Regions from separate parts of the Homo sapiens genome. Here regions 1, 2, 3 and 4 are each linked to region 5. The links come from fine-mapping of genetic effects on gene expression. A gene starts in region 5. Each other region holds a variant in brackets. All regions are shown on one strand. Distances are from middle to middle.

What was found. PIP is the estimated chance that this variant, and not a neighbour inherited with it, causes the effect.
Region 1: its variant is fine-mapped to the expression of ARL2BP in whole blood (TOPMed, PIP 0.95).
Region 2: its variant is fine-mapped to the expression of ARL2BP in whole blood (INTERVAL, PIP above 0.99).
Region 3: its variant is fine-mapped to the expression of ARL2BP in whole blood (INTERVAL, PIP above 0.99).
Region 4: its variant is fine-mapped to the expression of ARL2BP in whole blood (TOPMed, PIP above 0.99).

What each region holds. Positions count from the first base shown.
Region 1 is chr16:57,120,066-57,125,065 of GRCh38, reverse strand. It overlaps CPNE2 (copine 2), which reads right to left. Exons shown (of 16, transcript NM_152727.6): 8 at 3,875-3,973; 9 at 3,306-3,392; 10 at 1,593-1,652. Among named protein-coding and RNA genes, the nearest start is that of CPNE2, 30 kb to the right of the region's middle. The variant G/A (reference allele first, on the strand shown) is at 2,269.
Region 2 is chr16:57,094,959-57,100,155 of GRCh38, reverse strand. The region is part of intron 1 of CPNE2 (copine 2); the gene reads right to left. Among named protein-coding and RNA genes, the nearest start is that of CPNE2, 5.0 kb to the right of the region's middle. The variant C/T (reference allele first, on the strand shown) is at 2,617.
Region 3 is chr16:57,202,499-57,207,686 of GRCh38, reverse strand. RSPRY1 (ring finger and SPRY domain containing 1) reads right to left here. Exons shown (of 15, transcript NM_133368.3): 2 at 2,679-3,183. The coding sequence starts at 3,028. Among named protein-coding and RNA genes, the nearest start is that of RSPRY1, 19 kb to the right of the region's middle. The variant A/C (reference allele first, on the strand shown) is at 2,503.
Region 4 is chr16:57,264,305-57,269,304 of GRCh38, reverse strand. All of the region lies in intron 1 of PLLP (plasmolipin), which reads left to right. Among named protein-coding and RNA genes, the nearest start is that of PLLP, 18 kb to the left of the region's middle. The variant C/T (reference allele first, on the strand shown) is at 2,260.
Region 5 is chr16:57,242,759-57,247,758 of GRCh38, reverse strand. ARL2BP (ARF like GTPase 2 binding protein) reads right to left here and starts at 2,500. Exons shown (of 6, transcript NM_012106.4): 1 at 2,354-2,500; 2 at 1,618-1,679. The coding sequence starts at 2,391. It overlaps LOC124903697 (a long non-coding RNA gene), which reads left to right. Exons shown (of 2, transcript XR_007065082.1): 2 at 1-1,944. RefSeq lists silencers at 2,102-2,311, 2,402-2,781.

The DNA of each region.
Region 1 (5,000 bases), 120 kb after region 5:
AGTTGCTGTGGGGTAGGAGAGAAGGGGCCACCCATCCAAATCCTCACATGGCTAGAGGGTCACTCCCCCAGGTCAGGGGCAGCATGTCTTAGTCCTTGAGGGACCGCTGCAGGGACACAGCCTAGAGCCCGGCACAAAGGAGGCAGTCAGTGTGAGTTCGCTGAATGAACAAACTCGTGCAGGAGGAACAGGAGGGCCTGGCCTCTGTGCAGGGGAGGGGGCAGTGGTGGGCAGCAGGGTCAGAAGTCAGCAAGGCCAATCCTCTGACTCCATGGCATCCTGTGATGCCCTCCATTTCCCATTAGGATCTAGGGGTGGTGATGGGGAACGGTGAGACAACATGGGGAGGTGGGCAGAGCGTGGCACCCCAGCAGCTTCCTCCCTTCTGGGCCTGAGGCTCCCTTGGGGTGAGGAAGCAAAGCCAGGATGAGTGGCACAGAGTCTGTGGGGCAAAGACTCCAGGCCACAGGCAAGGTGGCAGTTCATTCTTCCAACGAGAAATGATGGAGCACCTGCTATGTGCCAGTTACTGTGTGATATGCTGGGGTTGGAGTGGAAGCAAAATAAACAAAGTGCCCACACTTAAAAGCACTCACATTCCAGTGGGTGCGACGATCAGGGAGAAGCGACAAATGCATATGAATCTCGGGGCGGCAAGTGCCCAGAAAATAGGAAAATAGTGAGGGCCAGGCCCAGTGACTCATGCCTGTAATCCTAGCACTTTGAGAGGCCAAGGTGGGCAGATCGCTTGAGCCCAGGAGTTTGAGACCAGCCTGGGCAACATAGCAAAACCCCATCTCTACAGAAAATGCAAAAATTAGCTGGGCATGATGGCATGCACCTGTAATCCCAGCTACTCAGGAAGCTGAGGTGGGAGGATCAACTGAGAGCTGAAGGTGGAGGCTGCAGTGATCTGAGATCGTGCCACTGCACTCTAGACCACGTGACAGAATGAGACGCTGTCTCAAAAAAAAAAAAGAAAAGAAAAGAAAAGAAAAGAAAGAAAATAGGAAGATATGACAGAGGAGCAGCAAGGCATTGAGGGAGGGAGGGCTCCCTGGAAGGTGACCTCCGTTACCTCCTCAGGCCTGAAAAATGGCAGGTAGGCAGCCATGCAAAGGTTCTGGGGAAGTGTTTCAGGCAGAGGGAACAACAAATGCAGAAGGAACAGCAAATGCAAAGTTCTAACATGAAGCAAAGCTTGGCATGTTGGGCAAACAGAGGAAGAGTGTGGTTAGAGCCCAGTGAGCAAGGAGGAAGGAGGCTGCAGATGAAGGAGGCAGGGATCGCTGAAGGCCTTGTGGCCAGTGAGGAGGAATTTGTTTTCCTCCACCCGCAGAAGGAGTGTAGCCACCAGACTGAAAGCTGTGCAGCTGTGCTCTGACCTGTAGTTAAGCCCCAACTCAGGCACACCCAGCAGGACCAGACAGCCCACTTATGCCCTCCTCACTAGGCCGCACACACTCTTTGCCCCAGGGAAGTCCTTCCTGAAGTCTACCCTAAGTCCCTCTGGCTGCACTAGTGGCCCAAGTCTTCAGGGAGGACCCTCACTGGGATGGGGGTGCAGAGGGAGCCAGCGGGGAGAGCCTTACGGTGAACATGAGCTGGCAGCCTCCCAGGATGTAGTCAAGGAAGGAGTAGTCTCGGTTTATCTGGAAGAAAGCGGATGAGTCAGTGGGTCCCCTTGACTTGGTCACACTCCCCATGGGGGAGTTGTTGCTCTATGTCCTGCAACCTCAGTAGGGACAAGGAGGTCAAAAAAAGCTGATGGGCCTGATCTAATTACAACAAAACCCAAATCTCTCTATAACAAAGCCTTCAGTGCAATGGTTCCTAATGGGTGGGGGACTCACAGAGACCCCCACACCCCACAGATACACAGACACATGCTGGTTCCAGGCAGGGTGCCAGGGCCCAGTGTCAGTTACCTGACACAGAGTGTCTCAATTTGTCACTGTTAGGTACTTACCTTCTCCTGGCCCTTATTAATCTACCTTTTTAACAAAGAGAAAGAGCAGGCCTCCAGCTCAAGGCCTTCCTCTAGAAGTTGTTTTGATGGTCTTTGTCTCTTTTTGGCAAAGAAGGCAGATCTTTTAATTTTGGTAGAGTTCTAATAATCTCTTTCTAAATAAATGTATTTAAGTTAAAAAAAAAAAAAAAGAGAAAAGAAACAGGCCAGGTATAGTGGCTCATTCCTGTAATCCTAGCAGTTTGGGAGGCCAAGGCAGGCAAATCACTTGAGGTCAGGAGTTCAAGACCAGCCTGGTC[G/A]ACATAATGAAACCCCATCTCTACTAAAAACACAAAAATTAGCCAGGCGTAGTGGCATGCACCTGTAATCCCAGCTATTTGGGAGGCTGAGGCAGGAGAATCCCTTGAACCTGGAAGGCGGAGGTTGCAGTGAGCTGAGATCACGCCACTGCACTCCAGCCTGGGCAACACAGTGAGACTCTGTCTCAAAAACAAAAACAAAAAACAATAATACAGGGAAGAAAGACTGATTCAAAAAAATAAGTAAGGCAGGTGCCAGAAATTGTGAAAAGTGATGTGAATGATGGAAACTTCAGAAACAAGGACCATCCATCACAAGGCTGCAACCTGACATCTTGACCTTTAACGGAGTGCTTTTTTGTCGTGACACCACTGAATGTTCGTGTAAACCCTAGCCAGACGAGGCTCCAAATAAGGTGGGAGTCTGGGATCCACCTGCTGGTGGAGAGCAGCGGCCAGACTCCTGAGCTGTCAGGCCCTGAGCCCAGGTCTCTTGCTCTCCTGCCCCAGGCTGCCTTCCTTAATGTTCTGCCAGATCCAGCAGTTATTTGCCCACCAGGTCTTCTGGCCCCCACCCACAGCCTGGCCACTGCTGACATGAACTTCATTGCCTTTCTGGGCCTCAGTGGCCCCGGCTGTACCATGGGAGTCACAGTGACGCTGATGCCAGAGAGGACAGGGTGTCCCCACCCAATGTCCTCTGCCCCTTGCATGCCCACCGTGGGCGGCAGCAACTCGCAATGACAATTCTCCCACCAGGACAGGCCCTGGAAGGTCAGCTCGTGCCTTCCCTGGCCTCCACACAGGAATGTGAGAGAAGAGTAACCCTGGACATGCTCTGCCTCGTTAATATCTCCATTCCACAGATGAGGAGACTGAGGCCTGGTGAGGTGAAGCTCAGAAGGCCATAGGGCCAGGATGTGGCAGAGCCGGGATTTGAACACAGGCCTCGCTGGCTCCAGATCCAGTGCTCTGTCTGTCCCTTCTGTGTGGCCTGAAACCTGGCCCCTGGCTCGTGCTTGCCCACGCTGGTTCACCTTGCAGGATCGCAGGATGATGATGCCCGAGTTTTTATAGTTCTTCTTCTTCCTCTGCTTCTTGGGGTTGATGCACTCGAACTCCAGCTGGGCAACGCAAAAGAAAGAGACACTCACCTCGGGGCTTCTTTGGAAACAGATCCTCCTCCTTGGCCCTAGAATCCCTTCCACAGGCTTGACAATGGGGGCAGCATGCTTCCTCCAGGGAGCCTCCCAGGATGTCCACACCCAAAAATGGTAGCAGGATCAGCATCTGCCTCCCTCCTCCCCAGATAACGCACCCCCAAACTGTCCAGCTGAGGGCCCAACATCACGGAATGACTTAAATGGATAGCTCCTGACTGCTCACTATATGCTGGGCACTTCGCCTGCATCATCTCATTCAATCCCCACCCAAATCCTCTGCCCCCATTGACAGATGGAGAAACTGAGTCTTAGATTGAATGCCTTGCTCAAGGTCATGCAGCCAGAAGGGGGATCTCAGCCCCAGGCTGCCTGACCCAAGACCCGGTGCCCCTTCCCCCAGCCCTGCTGAGGTCTTGGGGTTACAGTACACGTGCCCATCTCACCGGGACGCTGTCTCGAGCCTCACACATCTGTGACACTGAGGTCTGGAACTCGCCGATGAAGTCATGGCCCCCGTCATTGTCATAGTCGTAGCACATGACCTGGGGTGGGTTCAGCACGGTCACCCCAGAGCTGTCCCCCAAGAGGTGCTCTCCAGCCCCTCTCAACTCCCCAAGCAAACCCTCTGTCTTCTGTTTGGGTAGTGCCTCTCCTCAGCATCTGCCTAGCTGGCCTGGATAGCTCCTGAACTGCCTCCTGCAGGAAGACTTCTGTGATTGCTGGGAAAAGGAGAAAGTGTGTCTGCCCCACTGATGGAGGCTGTACCCTCTAGTGCAGGCAACTCCACTCCTTATACACCTGGCAAATGGCTCCCCCTCCACCTCGGGTTGTGACCCACCCAGCTTATGGCCTGGGGCCCTCTCTAGACATATTTTTTTCTGAGATGAGCACAGAAATCACAGCTTTATATGCTGTCTGAGCTGCTATGGCCCTCCTAGGAGGAAGGCAGGGATTATTGTTCCCATCCCACTGATGGGTAAACTGAGGCCCTGAAAGAGATGTACCTGCCCAAAGTCTCACAGCAGCAGTAGCAGACCCAGTACTAGAACCTAAGATTCCTGGTATCCTACTTGGGAATCTCTGTCCTGACCTAGCTGTCTCCCCAGTCCCATCTGCTCTCAGACCCAGCCCCTGGGGACCAAGAGCTTTTATTTTTTATTTATTTGATTTTATTTTATAATTTTTTTTTTTTTTTGAGACGGTCTCTACTAAAGACCGTGAGAGGGTGGGTGAGAGGCCTCACGTGAGAGGCCAGGGTGGTCTCAATCTCCTGACATCGTGATCCACCCACCTTGGCCTCCCAAAGTGCTGGGATTACAGGCATGAGCCACCGCGCCCGGCCTATAACTTTTTTTTTTTTTTTTGAGACAGAATCTTGCTCTGTTACCCATGCTGGAGTGCAGTGGCTCAATCTGGGCTCTGCAACCTCCGCCTCCCACATTCAAGTGATTCTCCTGCCTCAGGCTCCTGAGTAGCTGGGACTACAGGCGTGCACCGCCATGCTCGGCTAATTTTTGTATTTTTAGTAGAGATGGGGTTTTCCCATGTTGGCCAGGCTGGTCTTGAACT
Region 2 (5,197 bases), 150 kb after region 5:
AGGTGGGCGGATCACTTGAGGTCAGGAGTTCGAGACCCAGCCAACATTGTGAAACCCCATCCCCACTAAAAACACAAAAACTAGGCAGGGCATGGTGGCTCACACCTGCAATCCCAGCACTTTGAGAGGCCGAGGCAGGTGGATCACAAGGTCAAGAGATCAAGACCATCCCGGCTAGCATGGTGAAACCCCATCTCTACTAAAAATACAAAAATTAGCTGGGCGTGGTGCACGCGCCTGTAGTCCCAGCTATTCGGGAGGCTGAGGCAGGAGAATCGCTTGAATCCAGGAGGCAGAGGTTGCAGTGAGCCGAGATCGCACCACTGCACTCCAGCCTGGCAACAGCAAAACTCCGTCTCAAAAAAAAAAAAAAAAAAAAATCAAAAATTAGCCGGACATGGTGGCGGATGCCTGTAATCCCAGCTACTCAGCAGGCTAAGGCAGGAGAATCACTTGAATGGGGGTGGGGTGTGGAAGTTGCAGCAAGCTGAGATCGCGCCACTGCACTCCAGCCAGGGCAACAGAATGAAACTGTCTTAAAAAAAAAAGCACTATGCACCCACCCCCACCCCCAGGACGGCCAAAATTTTAAAAAGCTGACCATACCATGTGTTGGCAATAATGCAGAGCAACTGGAACACACACAGGTTGCCAGAGGGAGTGGAAATTGGTGCAACCACTTAGGAGAAACATTAGTGCCCAACGAAAACACTCACGTATGTTCACCCAAAGATACACACAGGAATGTTCATGGCAGTGCTAATCCAAATAATCCCAACTGGAACTCCCCACCCAAACCCCCATGATTGGAAGAAGGGAGACATAACTGGTGAATGAACACACAGCAGACCACATACAGCCAACTTGAAGGAAGAACACAGGTAGCAATAACACGGATGGGTCTCACACGTGCTGTGTGAAGGGGGCCAGAGAGAAAGGAGTATGTCATCCTATATGATTTCACTTAGGTGCCCTTAAACATGGACAAAACAAATCTATGCTGCTGGAAGTCAGGATAGCAGTAGGACACGTGGACGGGTGTTACTGACAAGAAGGGGACACCGGGGGCTTTGGTGCTGGTCGTGTCTGTTTCTGATCTGGGTTCTGGTGACCCAGATATGTTGGTTTGTGAACAGTCATTGACTGGTCCATGTAGAATGTCTGCTCTATTTCATGTTACACTTCAATGTGGTAAAACAAAAAACAAAAAACACCAAAACCAATAATCCAGGGACTCCTCTACAAAGCCCTTCCTATTTCCCTGGTCCTTGAGAGGGAATCACTTACAATATCAGCATACTGTAACCATTGGCTTAGAAGCGTCGCCCTCACTGGAGCTTAAAGATGGAACCAAACCCTGTTTCCATTTCGTTGCTCCCAACACCCAGAGGCACAGAATGGAAGCTCGACACAAGTTTGTTGAAAATGAGGAAGAGTGAAAAGGTGAGAGGAAGAGGAACCATAACATCTTGGAATTGTAGAGGCCCGGGACTAGAGGTTCACAGAATTCCAGAATTTGGGAATTCTGGGATTTCAGAGTCATGAGTTCTTTGAGTCTCAGAGCTAAAAGACTTTAGAGTTTATCTGGCCCCACTTTCCAGCCACACAGGAACCCTGGCCACAGCCTGGCTGCCCCAACATCCTGCATCCTGGTTCTGGTGGGCAGGGTCCAGCCACAAGCCTTATTCTCTGGGGCCCTTGCCGCATGCCCATTGCTGCACCAGCTCCTGCCAGGCGACAGGCAGCCCCCGGGGAGCAGGCTGGCACTCCTGACCAGGTGGGGGCGGCACCTTGACACAAATCATTTCTGCACCGAGGCTACGGCACCGGCTGCTGTGCTCCAAAGACACCACACTCCAACAGGCAGCCAGGCCATTACGGGGATAAATACAGATGCAGACAGCATGGCGAGGAGGCTGCAGCAGGGGTTGGCCCTGAGGCCCCCCTGGGGACCCCCAGCTTCCACCAGACCACATTCAGAGGGAGGTCATTCTCTGTAGTGCCCGCTTAATCACTAAGCTCTGGCTCTTAGGGGAGGTGGCTTCCCTTGGGACACCCCCACCCCCACCCTCCCAGGCCCCAGGTTCAGCTCATCCTGCACTGGAAGGTTTGTGTCACTTATAGGGGCTGACCTAGCAGGCTGAGAGGCAGCCTCCACTGTACTTCCTGTGAGTCTAGGGACTGGGTTTTGTCCTCTCCTGCCACTCCTCCCTCCTGGGCCTCAGCTCCTTCCCCTCCGGCCTCCCAGGAAGCTCCACATGGGGATAGGCACGGAGTGCTGTGGCTCTCCGGAGACTCTGAGTACTTAGGGGACCTTGGGAGTGGATCTGGCCAGGCTCAGAGGGCAGGGGACTCCCATGGAGGAGGGAATGGGGAAAGTTGTACGTCTGAGAGAAGGTGGATTTGCCTAGGACTGAAAGACTGGGGGCTGGGGAGGTGGAGGATGTGAGGTCCCCTGGGTGGGACGTCACCTGCTGCCACTGCCTGCCCACCCAAGGGACTGAGGTGTGCTGGAGAAAGTCACCCATTCCCTATGCAACCTGGGCCATGTGTCCTAACCTCTCTAGCCTCAGTTTCTTCATACAGGAAATGGAGCTGCTGCTAACTAGAGCTGTC[C/T]CCACTACTTTCTTCATGATGTTCTTAAGGCAGCAGTGAAAAGCTGGTACACTGAAGAGGGTTGTGCACAGATGTAATCCCTCTTTCACTTGGGACTTTGGGTCTCCACCTTCCAGGAGAGCTTCCCTCACCATGCAGCCATCCATTTGGTTGTTCAACAGATGTTTCTTAAGCAGTTCCTCTGGACCAGGGACTTTGCTGTGTGCTGGAGGGGCAACCATGATCAAGACACACTCAGGCTCTGGGCATAGGAGTTCGGGATGGAGTTGGGGGAACAGAGAGGTGAGCAAATGACAAGGGCAGGAAATCTCAGAGAGTGGAAAATGTCATAAAGAGAATAAAGCAGGGTGAAGTGATTGTGATAGGGCAGTGTGGAGGAGGCCACATTTGAGCTGGGATGTTAATAGACCAGGAGCCCCAGGAGAGCAAGGCATTGGTCTCTCTCGTTCATGGCTGTATCCCAGCCATAGCTGGTGCCCAGCAGGTACTCAGTGAATATTTTTGAATGAATGAATGAATGGGCTCCTGAACCAAGCTAGGCATGTCCCCACCACAGGGCCTTTGCATGCGCTGTTTCCTCTACCTGTTCCCCAGCATGTGTAAAGGCCCTGTGGTGTGGACATGCCTAGTGTGGTTCAGAAGCCCATTCTCCCTACAACTCTACTGTATCCCTGCAGGCTTTTGTGTCTTATCAGGAGCTGAGGATATCTGGCCTGCCTGATGTGCCCTGGCTGTCCCCTCTCTAAAACACAGGAGGGAATATGCCCAACTCCCAGCAGACAACTCCTGCAATCCCTCTTTCCTTTGGTTGGACCCCAAGTCTTTTTTTTTTTTTTTTTTTGAGACATGGTCTCACTGTTTCACCGAGGTTGGAGTACAGTGGCACAATCATGGCTCACTGCAGCCTCGACCTCCTGGGCTCAAGCAATCCTCCCACCTCAGTCTCCCAAGTAGTTGGGACTACAGGCATGCACCACAACACCCAGCTAATTTTGTTTATTTTTTATTTTGGTAAAGACGGGTTTTTGCCATGTTGCCCAGGCTGGTCTTGAACTCCTGGGCTCAAGTGGTCTGACTATCTTGGCCTCCCTCAGTACTGGGATTACAGGTGTGAGCCACCACGCCCGGCTCTCCCATCAGTCTTTCAGAGACATGCCCAACCTGAGAAAAGTGTATTGTAAGAGTGCAGTGAATGCTGGGAGCTGAGCTACTGGGTTTCAAACTCTGGTTGGCCATGGGCTAGTTGAGCACCACACACTGGATGGCTTAGATTCTCTCACAGTTCTGTAGGCTACAAGTTTGAAATCCAGCTGTCAGCAAGGCCATGCTCCTTCCAGCACTCAGTATGGTAAGCCAGAGATCCCTCCAGAGACTCAAGAGGGCAAGCTCGTAATTCTCCCAGGATCCATCACTCAACATCACAGACTCATTTAACAGGAGGCTGCAAAGAGGGGCAGGTGCAGTCATTCCTCACACAAGGATTTACTGAGCACCTACAATGTGCCAGGCACTGTTCTAAGTGCTGGGACATGGCCCTAAACAAGACAGACACTGTTTGCTCTTGCCTTTTTGTGGATCTGACACCCTTTGGGGAGGGAGGCAGATAAGCTGGTGCACCAATGAGTAAAGAAGATGGTTTTAAAGAGTGGCAAATGCCCCAAGAAAAATACAACCAGGAGATGCAGCAGTGAGGAGGGATGGTGACACAATCTCACTAGTCAGTCTCATTGCAGACCTCAGAGCAAGTGTGGCCAGATAAGTAAGAAATGTTCCATGGTCGGGCACAGTGGCTCATGCCTATAATCCCAGCACTTTGGGAGACCGAGGTGGGTGGATCACCTGAGGCCAGGAGTTCAAGGCCAGCCTAACCAACATAGCAAAACCCCGTCTCTACTAGAAATACAAAAATTAGCTAGGTGTGCACCTGTGATCCCAGTTACTTGGGAGGCTAAGGCACAAGAATCGCCTGAACCTGGGAGGTGGAGGTTGCAGTGAGCTGAGATCACACCAGTGCACTCCGGCCTGTGTGACAGAGCAAGATCCTGTCTCAAAAAATAAATAAATAAAAAATAAAAAAAGGAAGAAAGAAAGAAATATTCCAGGGTATGGAACAGCAGTCTTCTTGACTCTGCCATGGGAGTGACAGCCGAGGTCCAGTGGCCCAATGAGGGCAGAAGACATTGGGATGTGAGCCAGGAGGCGCCTCTAACCTGGGCTCTGTCCTCAGGCACTGTGGGACCCCTATGTCCTCCCTTCTGGACAGGGAGGTGGGGAGATGTGTGATTGTGGACTTTTCTAGATGCTGCCTGCCAAGATCACAGGGTGACCTGGCATCCCAGCTCCCACAGAGCCCACACCACCGTGTCTGGCAGGGTTGGGGGAGATCCCACCTCCACTCCCTGAGGCCATATTCTGCAAGGGGGAAGGAGCTGGGTCCTCAAGGTGTTTTGCTCCTGATTCGGTAGCCCCAGTGCCATCTATGAATAAGGTTCAGGGGAGGGGAGAGGGACAGAGACCTCCATCAGGCTGGGGGCACCCTGACCCTGAGCTGAGGGCTTCTCAGATCGGGACCGTGCCTGGC
Region 3 (5,188 bases), 40 kb after region 5:
CCTCAGAGAAATGCCAGGAAGAGAGACGACAATCCCGGTTGAGGACTTATGGAAGCAAGGGCCTATATACGCATCTTCATTTTGAAGTTTTCTTCTGGAAATACCACTACATGCTTAGACTTCATAAAATGGTATTACAAGAAACAAAACCAAACTTAAGGAACTACTTAACATTCTAGACATTGCTCCAAAGTGGCATTATACACCTTAATTCAGTGGTGTGATCCCAGAAATCTTTAAAAAGTCCTTCAGGGGAACTTCAATAATGAGATGTTTTCCATTAAACAATTCTAACTGCTTAAGAACTCACCACTTATTTGTTTACATATTGTGGGTCTCTGTTTTAGTGTGGAAAAAAAAAAAGCCCCAAAAACTATCATCTTAAGTCATTTAATCCAGAGAATAACCTTGTGATATGGGAATTAGTATGGTCATTTCAGGTACTCATTAGGTGCTGCCTGTTTAAACAATATAATTGACTGATGCAAGTATTTCTGAAGAATGATCTGGCAATAATAAAATTAAGTATGCATATACCCAACAGTTGTAGATAAATTTTTACACAGGTCCAAAAATCAATGCATATTTGCGCTGTTCACTGCAGTGCTGTTTGTAAGAACAAAAATTTGGCAGTAACCTAAGTGACCATCACCAGATGAAAATGTAACAAAATATAATACTTTCAGGCATACAAGGGAATACTCTGTAATAGTCAGAAGCAGTTGTAGATTTATATACAGTAACACAGATTTCGATGTTGAGAAAAGTTAAAAACAAAGAGGTTTGTATAACTATGTCACTCTCTTTTAAAATATTGCAAGGGGCCAAGCGTGGGGGCTCACATCTGCAATCCCAGCACTTAAGGAGGCTGAAGCTCGACAATCGCTTGAGTCCAGGTATTTGAGACCAGCCTGGGCAACATGGCAAGACCTGGCTCTACAAAAACTTTTTTAAAAATTAGCCAGGTGCAGTAGCACACGCCTGTAGTCCAAGCTACTTAGGAGGCTGAGGTGGGAGGATGGTTTGAGTCCAGGAGGCTGAGGCTGCAGTGAGTCATGATCACGCCACTGTACGCCAGCCTGGGTGACAAAGTGAGACCCTGTCTCTTTAAAAACAAAACAAAACAAAAAAACTCTCTCTCTCAAAGTCTATTCTGCACCCATTTTTCCAATGAGCTTAAATTAACATTGTTTGTGGTTTACTTCCTTATTTGGGAAGGATAACTTTTATTACAATTTGGTACAAGGGATTTAAAAAATTTTTTTTGATTAATTAATTTTTGAGACAGGGTCTTGCTCTATTGCCCAGGCTGGAGTGCAGTGGTGTGATCATAGCTCACTGCAGCTGGAAACTCCTGGACTCTAGCAGTACTCCGGTCTTAGAATCCTGAGTAGCTGGGATCACAGGCAAGTGCCACTGTACCTGGATAATTTTTAAATTTTTTTTGCAGAGATGGGATCTCCCTATGTTGCCTAGGCTGGTCTTGAACTCCTGGCCTCCAGCTATCTTTCTACCTCAGCCTCTCAAAAGTGTTGGAATTACAGGTATGAGCCATTGTGTCTGGCCAAAAAATTATTCTTCTCGAAGACTAACAAATGCTCCAGTATTTTATGGAAAAGTTTAATACAGCTCTAAAAATTCGTTTGTATTCACAGGTACACTCTGTTTTATGCTTAATTTTTGAGGAACTAAACGAAACTGGGTTTCTATAAATGCGATTATCAAATGTTTATATACTTAAATTTACTAGCAGGGCCTGAAGCAAAAAGAACACATAAGTAACTTTTTAAAAAATACTACCATCTACTGAGCAACTGTTAAGTACAAAGCTCCACACTGAATGCCTTATGTACATTATCTCATGATAATCCTTGTGGGAACAATATTATCCCCCCATTTACAGATGAGGAATCTGAGGCTTCAAGAAGTAACTTACCCAATGTCATGCAGTTAGTAAGGCACTGGGCCAGAACTTGAGCTAGGCCCATCATGGTTCTAAGCTTTGTGCTCTTAACTACTGAAATATACAACCTTAAGTTAAATGTTTTTTTCTACTTGGATGCCCTTTAATTTCACTGTTATTCAATCTATGATTTTGTATTTAGAGGTAGACAAAGCAGAGGAAAAGACAAAACAGGTACAGGTGTGCCTTGCAGTATCAACTGACAAGCTTCCTAAATGGATTAAAGATAGTCAAATAAGGGATAAAGGATCAAATAAAGGATAATGAAAACTCTCCTTGACCTTAGTCCTTATGTTGCCAAGAGAAGTTGCCTGTAGCCATGTTCTTGGTAAAACAACTTACCTTGAATCTGAGGTCAGTGGAATAGACAGGCATGTACCATTAACAGTGAGCCTTCATGAAACCATTTCCTATTGTAGCTAGCAACATAAACTCACTCCATATTTACTCTATTCTCTAATAAAGATCATAGCTTTATCGTGTTTTCTGCTACAGAAACATTTAGACATTTCCAGACAAAGTAGATGACAGCAAGCAAA[A/C]ACATCAAATCTTATCATTTACTCTGCCATCAGCGGAGCATTAAAATATTCTCCTTTGCCCTGTGAGCACAAGGCTTGGCGAGTATGTCCTAAAGGAACTGAAGGAGTCCTAAAGTCATGGTTCCGGGCAGAACACTTTTCATTCCACTGGAGGTGACCGTGAGTCAGATACTTACTTATCTACAAGAGTCCGTATTACTGCCAGTGTGTCCAACACTAGCCCATCCACATTTTGTTTCTTTCTCCTTGGCTCATGAGGTCCTCGGCCCCTCCTTGGTGGCCGAACAGGGTCCCGTGGTTGGCTCCTTGTGTCAGCAGTGGGTACTGCACTGTTCTCGGCCTGTTGCTGTTGGGTGTCAACACTGTCATCTGTTCCACTGTCATCTCGGCAGATACAGGAATTACCCATGGTAGTAGCGGCACCTCCAGTCCCTAGGAAGTGGGCTATGTGCTCTTCGAGAGTCAACAACAGACCCTGGCCAAGGCTTCTGCTCGCTAAGAACACGGCCCAACCAAAGACGATCATTTAGGTAGTTTTCAGTTTTCCAAGTACTGTTTTCATAACCTGGAGTTGAGGAATTTGCATCCTATTTGTTTTTAACAACTGAATGCCAAAGAAAGTTGCAGAGCTTATTCCCAACATTATCAACTACAGGGGATTCTGGACATCCAATGGCAGTTCTAAAAGAAAATGAGAAAAAGGAAAATGAATAAAAGATTCTTGACCACTTAATTACTCAAATTTTCCTAGTCTGATTTTATAGATATTAGGATTCTAATGAAGAATTATCTTTGGTTATTTTTATAGGTTTCCAATACAAAGAGATAGCTTTGGATAACAGAATTCGCAATCAATCAATAATTTCTTTTTATCATTCTGTTACAAAGTTGATTGCCAAACCATATTCTTATAGACCAGAGGAGTTATCATTGATTTTTTTAAAACCACATGTATAGTTTTTCCTGTCTATATAGAAATACATTAGAAGGATGTGTGCATTTTTTTTCAAGGGCTCCTTTTATCATAAAAAAAGAGTTGTCTTTCTGTGTAAGAGGTAGGTGTTAAAAAGAGAAAAATCTTTAAAAAAATGAATTAACTCCTTTCTTTAAACCCATAGGATAATTTAACAAGTTTTAAATAAAATAATTACAGACGTTTGTTGTTAAAAAAAAGTTATGATACAAATATGATAGCACCATTTGATATCAAGGAGAATAAAAGGATAGAGTTTCCCATTGGAAGCTCACTCAAGAACTGACAGAATTCATACAAGTTGTTGCAAAGTGTTTCTGTTATGTAAGCAAGGCTTTGTTTTGGGAAAGGAAAACTGATATCACAAAAGTTGTATTTTCACAATGATCAGTTTGTTGCACATGTCTATTACAAAGTTCAGAATAAGATGCACCAATTTATCTTTGCCTGAAAATACTGACTAAGGACCTTGTGCCAGGTACCACGCTGGACTAGGAGAATAAAGATGAGTAAGGAATAGTTCCTGCCCTCCAGGAATTCATGGATGGCCATTCTCATCCCACAAAGTATGTTTATCATTAAAAACCTAATGAAAGAACCAGCTCTTCAAGAAGCTGGTAAAATCTGGTTAGATTCTGGAAGGAAGTAAAGATTTAGAAATAGGAGACTTACATGGGCTGGTAGCAAAAAGTAAAAAAACAAACAAACAAACAAAACAGGCTGACAGCTGGAGAACAGGCCACATAAGGAATAGACTATGCTAGTGTGTAGTCTCTACACAACATCTGGCTAGTTACAATTAATTCCTCATACCTTGAGCACTGACCAGGAATAATATAAACAAAATTTATAATTCAGTGGAATTAGAAGAGAAATATTACTCCCATTATTTTATTTGTTTATTTATTTACTTATTTTTGAGGAGTCTCGCTCTATCACCCAGGCTGGAGTGCAGTGGTATGATCTTAGCTCACTGCAACCTCCACCTCCTGGGTTCAAGCAATTCTCCTACCTCAGCCTCTCGAGTAACTGGGACTACAGGTGCTGCCACCACACCCAGCCAGTTTTTATATTTTTAGTAGAGACGGGGTTTCACCATGTTGGCCACAAACTCCTGACCTCAGGCTATCTGCCCACCTCGGCCTCCCAAAGTGCTGGGATTACAGGTGTGAGCCACTGTGCCCAGCCTATTTCCATTATTTTAGACAGATTCATGGCAAAATTCTTTTTATTTTCCCAGTTTGATTACTGCTACAGGGAAAACATAGAAGAAAAAGAGAAAAATGGAGACAGAAAGTCTTCAGATATATATATATATATATATATATATATAATCATATGTAATAAAATATATATAAAGAGGGAGGAGGCAAAGGGAAGGGAGAGAAAAGAATGGAATGGGATGGAACAAGACAGGAGAAAGAAAAGGATAAAGGAAATGAGAGGCAACAGACGTTTTCACTATTAAGACAGCAATGGCTGGGCCAAGTGATACCACAGATGTTCTTGGTTCCCCCAAACCACTCGGGCTGTCTTCAAAATTTGGAGGTTGTACTGAAAAGGATGTGACTGAAGTATATAGGTAGGAGTATGATGCAAGGACCAGCTGGAAATAGCTTTTTAAAAGAACACATTCTAAACCAGCAGAGTCGAAGTAACAACATTGCCATTACTGTGGGGATCAGAGTATGATTCGCTTTAGAGGGTAGATAA
Region 4 (5,000 bases), 22 kb before region 5:
GGGTGAAAAGAGTTGGGGTGACCATCTTTGCATGACAGCTCAGAGTCCATAGGGTTGGTCAAACCCCTCCCTTTGGGGCCCCTGGAGGAGGCCCATGTTCAGGAGTGTTGACCTCTGCGGGAAATCTCAGAGAACAGCAAGCCAAACCTCCCTGCTTCCATTGTGCCAGGGGGTGAAGGGGTCTGCCCAAGGCCCCTCAGCCTATGAGGAGCTGAGGGAGTGCAGCTCCAAGGGAGATCTGAGGGCTGGGCTGGATTTCTGGGGCCTCCTGTGGGAGCACCACCGCCTTATCTGTCAGGTGGGTGGGGCTGGCACTGACGTGGGTCCTTATCTCTGCCTGGGCTGTGCCTGGTGCTTGAATGTGGATACTGTCATTCTCTCAGTGAGGCCTCACCCTCCTGAGGAGCCTCACACACCGTGGCGAATGCAGGAAAGTAGGCCCAGGGCCTGACTTGAAAACCCATGTTCTTAACCCCTCAGGGTGATCATGACACCTGGCCATGTTGAATATTAAGCCTATGCTGGTTGCTGGTCTAAGTTCCTTGCTCAAAACTACCCTAGGGCCCAGGCAGGAGGATCAGTTAAGCCTAGGAGTTCTAGACTAGCCTGGGCAACATGGGGAGACCCCACCTCTACAAAAATTAAAAATAGCTAGGAGTGGTGGTGCATGTCTGTAGTCCCAGCTACTTGGGAGGCTGAGGTGGGAGGATCACTTGAGCCCAGGAGTTCGAGGCTGCAGTGAGCTGCAATAGTGCCATTGCACTCCAGCCTGGGTGACAAAGTGAGACCCTGTCTCAAAAACAAAACAAAACAAAACCACCCTAGGGGGTAGATACATTTCAAAGATGAAGGAAGATGAAGACAAGGGCACAGAGAGGCTAAGCCACTTGCCTGAGGTCACACAGCTAGTTAAGTTGGCAGGGCCAGAGCGTGAATTCAAGGAGTCGATAGGCCACCCCTCCAACAGAACCAATGCCAGTGTCACTCAGGTGAACAAGGTCATGACACCCATCCACAGATTCAGAGAGCAGCTGAGAAAAACCTATTCATTTCCTGGGGCTGCCGTAACAAAGTTCCACAAACTGGGTGGCAGAAATATATTGTCTCAGTTACTGAAATCAAAGTGTTGGCAGGGTTGCTTTCTTCTGGGGCTCTGAGGGAGAGTCTGTCCCATGTCCCCCTCCTGGCTTCTGGTGGTGACCAGCAAGCCTTGGTGTGCCTTGGCTTACAAATGCATCACTCTCGTCTCTGCCTCTGTCTTCACACGATGGTCTCCCCTTGTGGTCTCTGTGTCCACATTTCTCTTGCAAGGACACCAGTCATTGGATTAGAGATGCCCCCAATCCAGTATAACCCCCCTTAACTCGAGCATGTCTGCAAACACTATTTTCTTTTCTTTTCTTTCTTTCTTTCTTTTTTTTTTTTTTTTGAGACGGAGTTTCGCTCTTGTTGCCCAGGCTGGAGTGCAGTGGTGCGATCTCGGCTCACTGCAACCTCTGTCTCCTAGGTTCAAGCGATTCTCCTGCCTCTCCCAAGTAGCTGGGATTACAGGCACATGCCACCATGCCTGGCTAATTTTTTGTATTTTTAGTAGAGGCAGGGTTTCACCACGTTGGCCAGGCTGGTCTTGAACTCCTGACCTTAGGTGATCCACCTGCCTCAGCCTCCCAAAGTGCTGGGATTACAGGTATGATCCACCATGCCAGGCCTTGTTTTGTTTTGTTTTGTTTTGTTTCTGAGACAGAGTCCCACTCTGTCCCCCAGGCTGGAGTGCAGTGGTGCAATCTCAGTTCACTGCAACCTCTGCCTCCTGAGTTCAAAGTGATTCTTCTGCCTCAGCTTCCTGAGTAGCTGGGACTACAGACACCCACCACCATGCCCGGCTAATTTTTGTATTTTTACTGGAGATGGGTTTCTCCATATTGGCCAAGCTGGTCTTAAACTCCTGTCCTTAACTGATCATGCACCTCAGGCTCCCAAAGTGCTGGGAATACAGGTATGAGCCACTGCGCCTGGCCAGAGCCTGTTTTCAAATAAGGCCACATTCCCAGGTACTAGGGGTTAGAACTTGAACATATTTTGGGGAACACATTGCAAACCACAATAAGAGATGAGGAAAAACTTCCCTCAGAGTCAGTGAAGGGCATGCACCCTGCAGGAACCTGGCCTGTCTGGCTGTCAGTGTTGGCAGCTTCTGGGGAAACTGTAATAACAGGGTTTCACTGCAGCAAGGAGTGCCTCTTGGTTGGGCATTTGTGA[C/T]GAATCTTCTCTCTGATGCCACAGGTGGTTTTAACAAAAACATCTCTTCGTTACCCAATTGTTTGGAAATTCTTTGAAGATGCAAAGGTCGTTTTTGACACTGTAGTCTTCATATGTAAAAAAAAGTTCCTAATCCAAATTATTCAGGTTTTCAGAAAAGCAAAAAAAAAAAAAAAAAAAAAGGCCCTGTGCCCTTGAGATTTCCAGACAGTTCCCTTTGTTTATCTGCAGGACCTGTCTGGGGAGGCATGGCAGGGACCTCAGAGAGCTGGGAAGGAGGGGAGGATGTGGTTTGCCTGTGTGTGTAGGAGAGAGACAGTTAGATATTCATGTAGACACCTCCAGAGAAACACGGGGACAGACGAACATGTAAGCAAGAGAGACCTGCAGGGCCCAGGGGTGAAGGCATAGAGTTCTGTTCTCAGATACCCACGTGGCACCCTCCCTGCCCCTCCCTCACCTCCCTGGGTCTTTGCTTATCATCACCTTGCCAGTGAGATCTTTCTTGGCCCCTTCTCCATAGACATTTGTTAAATATATTAACCCAGAGAGATGCCCACAGCGAGGCCTGTGTTGGGTGCCCTGTTCCGAGCAGGGTCTCTCTTGGGGGACTGGGCTGGGGGCTCAGGAACCAGGAGAAACCAGTCTGTCTGGTTCAAATGCAGGAACGAACCTTCCTTGTTCTAGGGCAGAAACCGAGGCAGCTCCGCAGGCACAGAGCCAGGCAGCACAGCCAGAAAGAACGCCAGAAATTCCCAGTCCTTATCCACCGGCTTCATCTGGACGCTGTGTTCGCTGATCTGGAAACCAGGGGTGGGGCTGGAGCACAGCACAGGGCGGGGCAGGGATGGCGGCGGGCAGTGGGGGGAGCCTGGGTGCCCAGCCCAGACTGGCTCCTAGAGCCAGCTGAAGTGTCCTCATTTTTTACACTTCACTAAATAACTCATAGTAGCGCAGGTTCCAAGGAAGCACGGATCTGGGTTCCTGTCCTTCCCTATCCTTTTAAAATTTTTATTTATTTTTTGAGACAGGGTCTCTGTCACCTAGGCTGGAGTGCAGTGGCGCCATCATGACTCACTGCAGCCTTGACTTCCCAGGCTCCATTGATCCTCCACCTCAGCTTCCCAAGTATCTGCGACCACAGGCACATGCTACTATGCCCAGCTAAATGTTATATTTTTGGTAGAGATGGGGTTTTCCATATTGTCCAGGCTGGTTTCGAACTCCTGAGCTCAAGTGATCCACCTGCCTCAGCCTCCCAAAGTGCTGGGATTACAGGTGTGAGCCACTGCACCCGGCCTCCTGCCCTGTCCTTTACCCACAGTGACCTCAGGCACATTGCCTCCTGAGATTCCCTTTGGAAGATGGGAATAACAGATAGAACATTTGAGGAGGGTCTGGTGATGGAGGAATCAATGAGATGTGTCTGGCACAGAGCGAGAAGGCATTGAGTGGTTATTGTGACCTAGGCTGTGAGTCATGGGACAGGTGATTGATAGGCATATGATAGTGGAAACCTGAATTGGTCTTTTCTTGATTTTTGGTTCATTGCATTTTCTGACTTTCCTTTAGTTAGTTGGAAGCTGGCAACACAGTGGCAGCGGAGGCCCATGAGGAATTGGCTTTAAATGAAAAAATAATTGTTTATCTTGGACGCACCCAGTTCTCACCTGGAGAAGGGACGGAGGCGTGCTGCCCGAAGTGTTTGTTCTCCTTCAGAACACTGGCCTCCCCCCAGCTCTGGGGGTTCGTGGCCTCTCCAGGTGTGTCTGTTTCTGGCAGGGTGTTGTTCTGAGACATCCTGCCCTGGGTCCACACTCGTAAGGGCTCTGCCCCCAGCTTGGTGTGTGACAGCGGGCAAGGCCCTGTGGCTCCGCCCTGGCTTCCTCACCTGCCTACCCTCACCTGGCCTGCTTGCGGCGGTGAGAGTGCTGACGGGCAGCAGAGGCTGGCAGGGTGCTGTGTGTTGGGGGGTGGATCCCTGGAGCTTCACCCCAGTGTGGGGAGGAGCAGGTGCTGAGCCCTGGAGAGCGGGACACCTTCCCTGGGCCTCCCACTTTGGGCTGAGCCCCTTACTTGGGTTGGGGGGAGGCAAGGCCAGGGGCAGTTCACAGATGGACACCTGCTTCTTATTAATTTATTTTGTTAATTTAATTTTAACTTTACTTAATTTTAATTTTATTTATTTTCGTTTATTTTGAGACAGGGTCTTGCTGTTGCTCAGGCTGGAGTACAGTGGCACAGTCATGGCTCACTGTAGCCTCAACCTCCCAGGTTCAAGCGATCCTCCCCACTCAGCCTCCCAAGTAGCTGGGACCACAGGTGCACCATCACCACACTCGGCTAATTTTTAAAGTATTTGGCAGAGATGGGCTCCCTGTATATTGCCCAGGATGGGGTCTTGAACGCCTGGGCTCAGGCAATCCTCCCACCTTGGCCTCCCCAAATGCTAGGATTACAGGCATAAGCCACCACGCCCAGCCCCACTGCTTCCTCTTTTAATACACGGTGCCTGTGCAGGGCAGGGTTCTGGTCTCTGTCATGGTTGAAGAAATAGGATTGTTAGTTCCTAAGCACATTGTGTATTTAGCGTATATTATGTGTCGGGCACTGTTGGGCACTGAAGATACAGCAGTGAACAAAACCCAGAATCTTCCTCGGAGAGCAGGGAAGGTACTCGGTCAGCATCACACAGCCACACAGCTTTTGACTTCCAAGCTCGAGGCCCCACCTGCCACTTC
Region 5 (5,000 bases):
AGGCTAGCCCGTCTGGGTTCGAATCGCATCTCAGCTACTTACTAATTGTGTGACCTTGGGTAAGTTACTTAATTTCTCTAACCCCCATATAAACACATTTATCTGGAAAATAAGAATGGTTTATGGTAGTTATCATATAGGATTGGAAGTGGAATTTAGATGAGAATTCATGTAAATAGATTAGTTCATAGTGAACACTTAATAAATGATAGGGAATAGGGAATTTTTTTTTTTTAATTGAGACAGGGTTCTCCCTATGGTGCCTAGGCTGGTCTCGAACTCCTAGACTCAAGCAATCCACCTGCGCTGGCCTCCCAAAGTGTTGGGGTTATAGGTGTGAGCCACCGTACCCATCCCGGAATAAGGAATTTTAACAACTGAATAGATTATTTCTAAAAATAAAAGGAAAGTTTCAGAAAGGACCCAGACTTTGGGATAAATACCGTAGGCTCACAGAAGGCTCATTTTCCCATAGCATATAGGGTATAATAGGCAAGAGAACTGAATGGATTCTTCAGTATTCCCCAGAAATCCCCAAGTCCACATGGGAAACGAGCTTAATGATGAAACATCTATATTCAGGAGTTAAGGGCATGAACCTTTATACCTGAAGGTATAAAAACTTGGTCAGTAATTTTCATTCTAAATGGATTAAGCCATACAGCCAATAACACCAAATAACAGTGTTCTTTTCTCAATTCTCATAAAACTTAAAGTCAACAGAATTTTCTCAAATGTAAGTTTTCCCCTCCTACATACTTGTCTTAAACCTCTGGGGACTGTTACTGCTTCTCTGTTACTTAGCAGGTTTCATGGATGCCCAAATACATCCACAAGTAGGAACTCAAAACCTAGGAAAATACAGAACCAGCTGAAGCTTAATACCTTGTTTTCTTTATGGCCATGTGTGCTTATGGTTATGGTTTTATGTGTTTATTTTCATTTTTATTTTTTCCAGACGGAGTCTCGCTCTGTCGCCCAGGCTGGAGTGAAGTGGCACGATCTCGGATCACTGCAAGCTCCACCTCCCAGGTTCACGCCATTTTCCTGCCTCAGCCTCCTGAGTAGCTGGGACTACAGGCGCCCGCTACCACGCCCGGCTAATTTTTTTTGTATTTTTAGTAGAGACAGGGTTTCACCGTGTTAGCCAGGATGGTCTTGATCTCCTGACCTCGTGATCCGCCCACCTCGGCCTCCCAAAGTGCTGGGATTACAGGCGTTAGCCACCGCACCTGGCCTGGTTTTATGTGTTTTATGGCATGAAAATGTTAAAACTCAAAACTATCTAAAATTGAAATTGCTCTTACCCTACATAAGAAATAGAGTAGATCATTATTTCCTATAGTTTTGCGAAGAACGCCACACTGCTGGTGCCCTATTAGCCTGAGTCAGTCCCTTCCAGCCTCTGAATCTATGCTTATTAGATGTTTTCAGGAGTACTGGGCTGTTTGTTTCTAAGACAAACTGCAGTAAGCCTTTACTTAAGTATTACATTGTGCTACATTAAAAATTGCAGGCAGCTTGATGTTTTCTCTTTTTAAAATTAACTCTCCAAATTGATTTCAATGTCCTTAAAGAAACAAGCAAGTCCTTAAAAACAGTATCTTAAAAGCTTACCCATGATAATGTCCTCTAAATATCCAACCACAGCATCAAATTCTGCATCAGAGGCGGAGGAGCTGAAAAACATGCCTGGATTAGGTGCTATTTCAAATAATGCATTAAAAAAATGTTTTTAGTATGGACGTTTTCAAACATGCACAAGAGAAAAAAGAGTAGCAAAACGAACTTCCCATCACCCATCTTCAACGATTAAGAATGACTGACTGATCTAGTAAGTCCAAACAGAAGAAAACACACTCGGCACGTTTGTGACATGAACGTTCAATGTCATGACTCCACTTTAATAAAAACTTGTTCTCCAGGCTCTTAGCTATCACCCCATACCTGTCTGCTTGTGAGCATGAACCCGGCACGGGCGAAACACCTGCCGGGGGGGGTCATTTGGTCAGGAGTCCGGGAGGCGGGGGCCAGGGAGGGGTGGAGGGGCCTCGGGCGCTCAACCCCTCCAGGCTTTGCTGACAGCTGAGGGTTGGCGGCTGGGGATTGTGATGGAGGCGCTGATCAACGGTGACACCCGCCTCGCACTCCTGTCCTGCGGGGCCTGAAACCTGCAGCCTTAGTACTCTACAAAAGGAAGGCCTGGAGCTGGGACGGCGCCTTGGCGGCCCCCACCCTGCCCGGCCCGGCCCGGCCCGGCCCCTAAGGACACCTGTTTTATAGGGTCAGGCCCCGGGGCGAACGCCCGCTGCCTCCGGCCCCAAGTCGCCTGCGCCCTGGAGGAGCTACTCACAAAGACAGCGCAAAGCTCTCTCCTTCTAAGGCGTCCATCGCAGTCGCCCCGAGTAGGCTCCAACCCCGCCCGCGGCCCAACTCGCATGCAGGGCGCGGCCGCCCGGCGGGGTTAAGGCCTCTCAGCCAAGGCCGCGGCCAGCTCACTGCCAGGTCGGGTCAGCGCCTGCGCGCCAGGTCCGGCCTTGGATACCCTCTGCCGCCACGCGTCGGTCCGGCCTCTACGCCCGCCTGGCCCTCTGCGCGCGCCGCCGACGCCGCAGGTCCGGGCCTCGGTGACTGCCGGAGGGGCGCGGCGCCCCGCCTCCTGTCACCATGGCCACCGCAACCCCTTCCACCGCCTCACGGCCGGCCGGCATCCAATCACAGGCGAGCGTTACCGATGCCGGGGCGGGGCAAGACAGGGAGAGGAAGTCCCGGAAGGGAGTGCGGAGGGATGCGGCGCTTCGGCGAGCACCCGTTGTGTGGGAACTCCGTCTCAAGTCGCCCCCATTGTACGGATGAAGGAATCGAAGCCACGAGCCAGAATTTCCTCACTCGCAACTCGAGAATAAATTGCGCCTCCCTGAGTGTGGAGGATTAAATAAGTAGTTTAAGGCGTGTTTAAAGAGCGCTTGTAAGTTGCCAAGTCGCTGGAGAGCCAGTCCCTTATCCCTTGAACCAGGTGATGCTGACGTCTGATTTCAAGACAGTTCCTACCCCTCGTGGAAGGAAAGCCCCATCGCAAGAAGTCGATGTCCTGTAATTTACGTTATAATCTTCGCATCATAAAGATTACTCGGCAGTAATTGGTTTCTTGACTAATTATACAAGATGAGAATTGAAGAACTATTTTGAGCCACGCAATCAGGAATCAGATACCTTTCAGGAAAAGGCCTCTTCAAAACTGCCAAACTTTGAAAAAGGATTCGTTTGAGCTGATTTCTCTTGATTGGACAACTAAGCATTGTGTCTCTTTAGTTGCATGATACCTTATGGCCAAAGTGTGGTATATGACTAGAGGAACTAGAGGGGTTTAAGGTATGAACTGAGGGTCAGGTGGCCAGTCAGAATGGGTTAGCAGACATTTTTTATTTTTTTGAGACGGAGTCTTGCTCTGTCGCCCAGGCTGGAGGGCAGTGGCACGATCTCGGCTGGCTACAACTTCCGCCTCCCAGGTTCAAGCGATTCTCGTGCCTCAGCCTCCCGAGTAGCTAGGATTACAAGTACGTGCCACTATGCCCGGCTATTTTTGAATTTTTAGTAGAGACAGGGTTTCACCATGTTGGCCAGGCTGGTCTCGAACTCCTGACCTCAGATGATCCACCTACCTTGGCCTCCAAAAGGGCTAGGATTACAGGTGTGAGCCACCACAACCGGCCTAGCAGACATCTTTGAATGGACTTAAAATAGATATCCGTGGGATCTGAAACAAAGATGGTTACAAAGACACAGTCGGGTGTGACAGCTGTGACCAAGGTGACATAAATTATTACTAATTTATTTATTTATTGAGATGGAGTTTCGCTCTTACTGCCCGGGCTAGAGTGCAATGGTGCAATCTCGGCTCAACACAACCTCCGCCTACCGGTTTCAAGCGATTCTCCTGCCTCAGCCTCCCGCGTAGCTAGGATTACAGTCATGCGCCACCATGCCTAATTTTTTTGTGTTTTTAGTAGAGATGGGGTTTCTCTATGTTGGTCAGGCTGGTCTTGAACTCCCGACCTCAGGTGATCCGCCCGCCTTGGCCTCCCAAAGTGCTGGGATTACAGGCGTGAGCCACTGCGCTCGGCCTATTTATTTTTTGAGAGGGAGTCTTGCTCTGTTGCCCAGGCTGGAGTGCAGTGGCGCAATCTCGGCTCACTGCAATCTCTGCCTCCCGGGTTTAAGGGATTCTCCTGCCTCAGCCTCCTAAGTAGCTGGGATTACAGGCGCGTGCCACCACACCCGGCTAATTTTTGTATTTTTAGTAGAGACAGGGCTTCACCATGTTGGCCAGCGTGGTCTCGAACTCCTGACCTCTGGTGGTCTGCCCGCCTCGGCCTCCCAAAGTGTTGGGATTACAGGCGTGAGCCACCGCACCCGGTCAGGTGACATCAATTATGAGTTACTCTGTTTAGCACCAAGTGGAAGATAGGCATTTAAAAAGATTTGCTGAATTACTGGACTGAGTTGTTTAGTCAAGCCCTGGTCACACAGCTTACAGCAAACTCAGAGAGTTTCTTCATGACCTACTTTCTCTATATACCACACATTTCTGGACAAAATGAATTTGCCTACCCTTCCTAAGTCATTGATGGAGTGGAGGAGGAACACACCTTGATTTAATCTGTTCTGGTTATCTATTGCTGTTACAAACCACCTGAAAATTTAGTGGCTTAAAACCACCATTTTGCTCACTAATCTGTAATTTGGGCAGGGCCAGCTAGTCTCTATTCCAGTTGGTGTCGGCTGGGGGCAGCTGGAATGGACTAGAGGAGCTTCCTCCAAGGAGTTTACTCACATGGCTGGCAAATTAGTGTTGGCTCTTGGCTCTCAGTTGTGGACATTGGCCAGAGAACTGGGGCCGGGGTTTGGGGGGTTTCAGTTCCTCTCCATCTATAGGATTCAGGGGATTCTTGGGTTTTCTCACACCATGGTGCTGGGTCCAAGAGCAAGTGTTTCAAGAC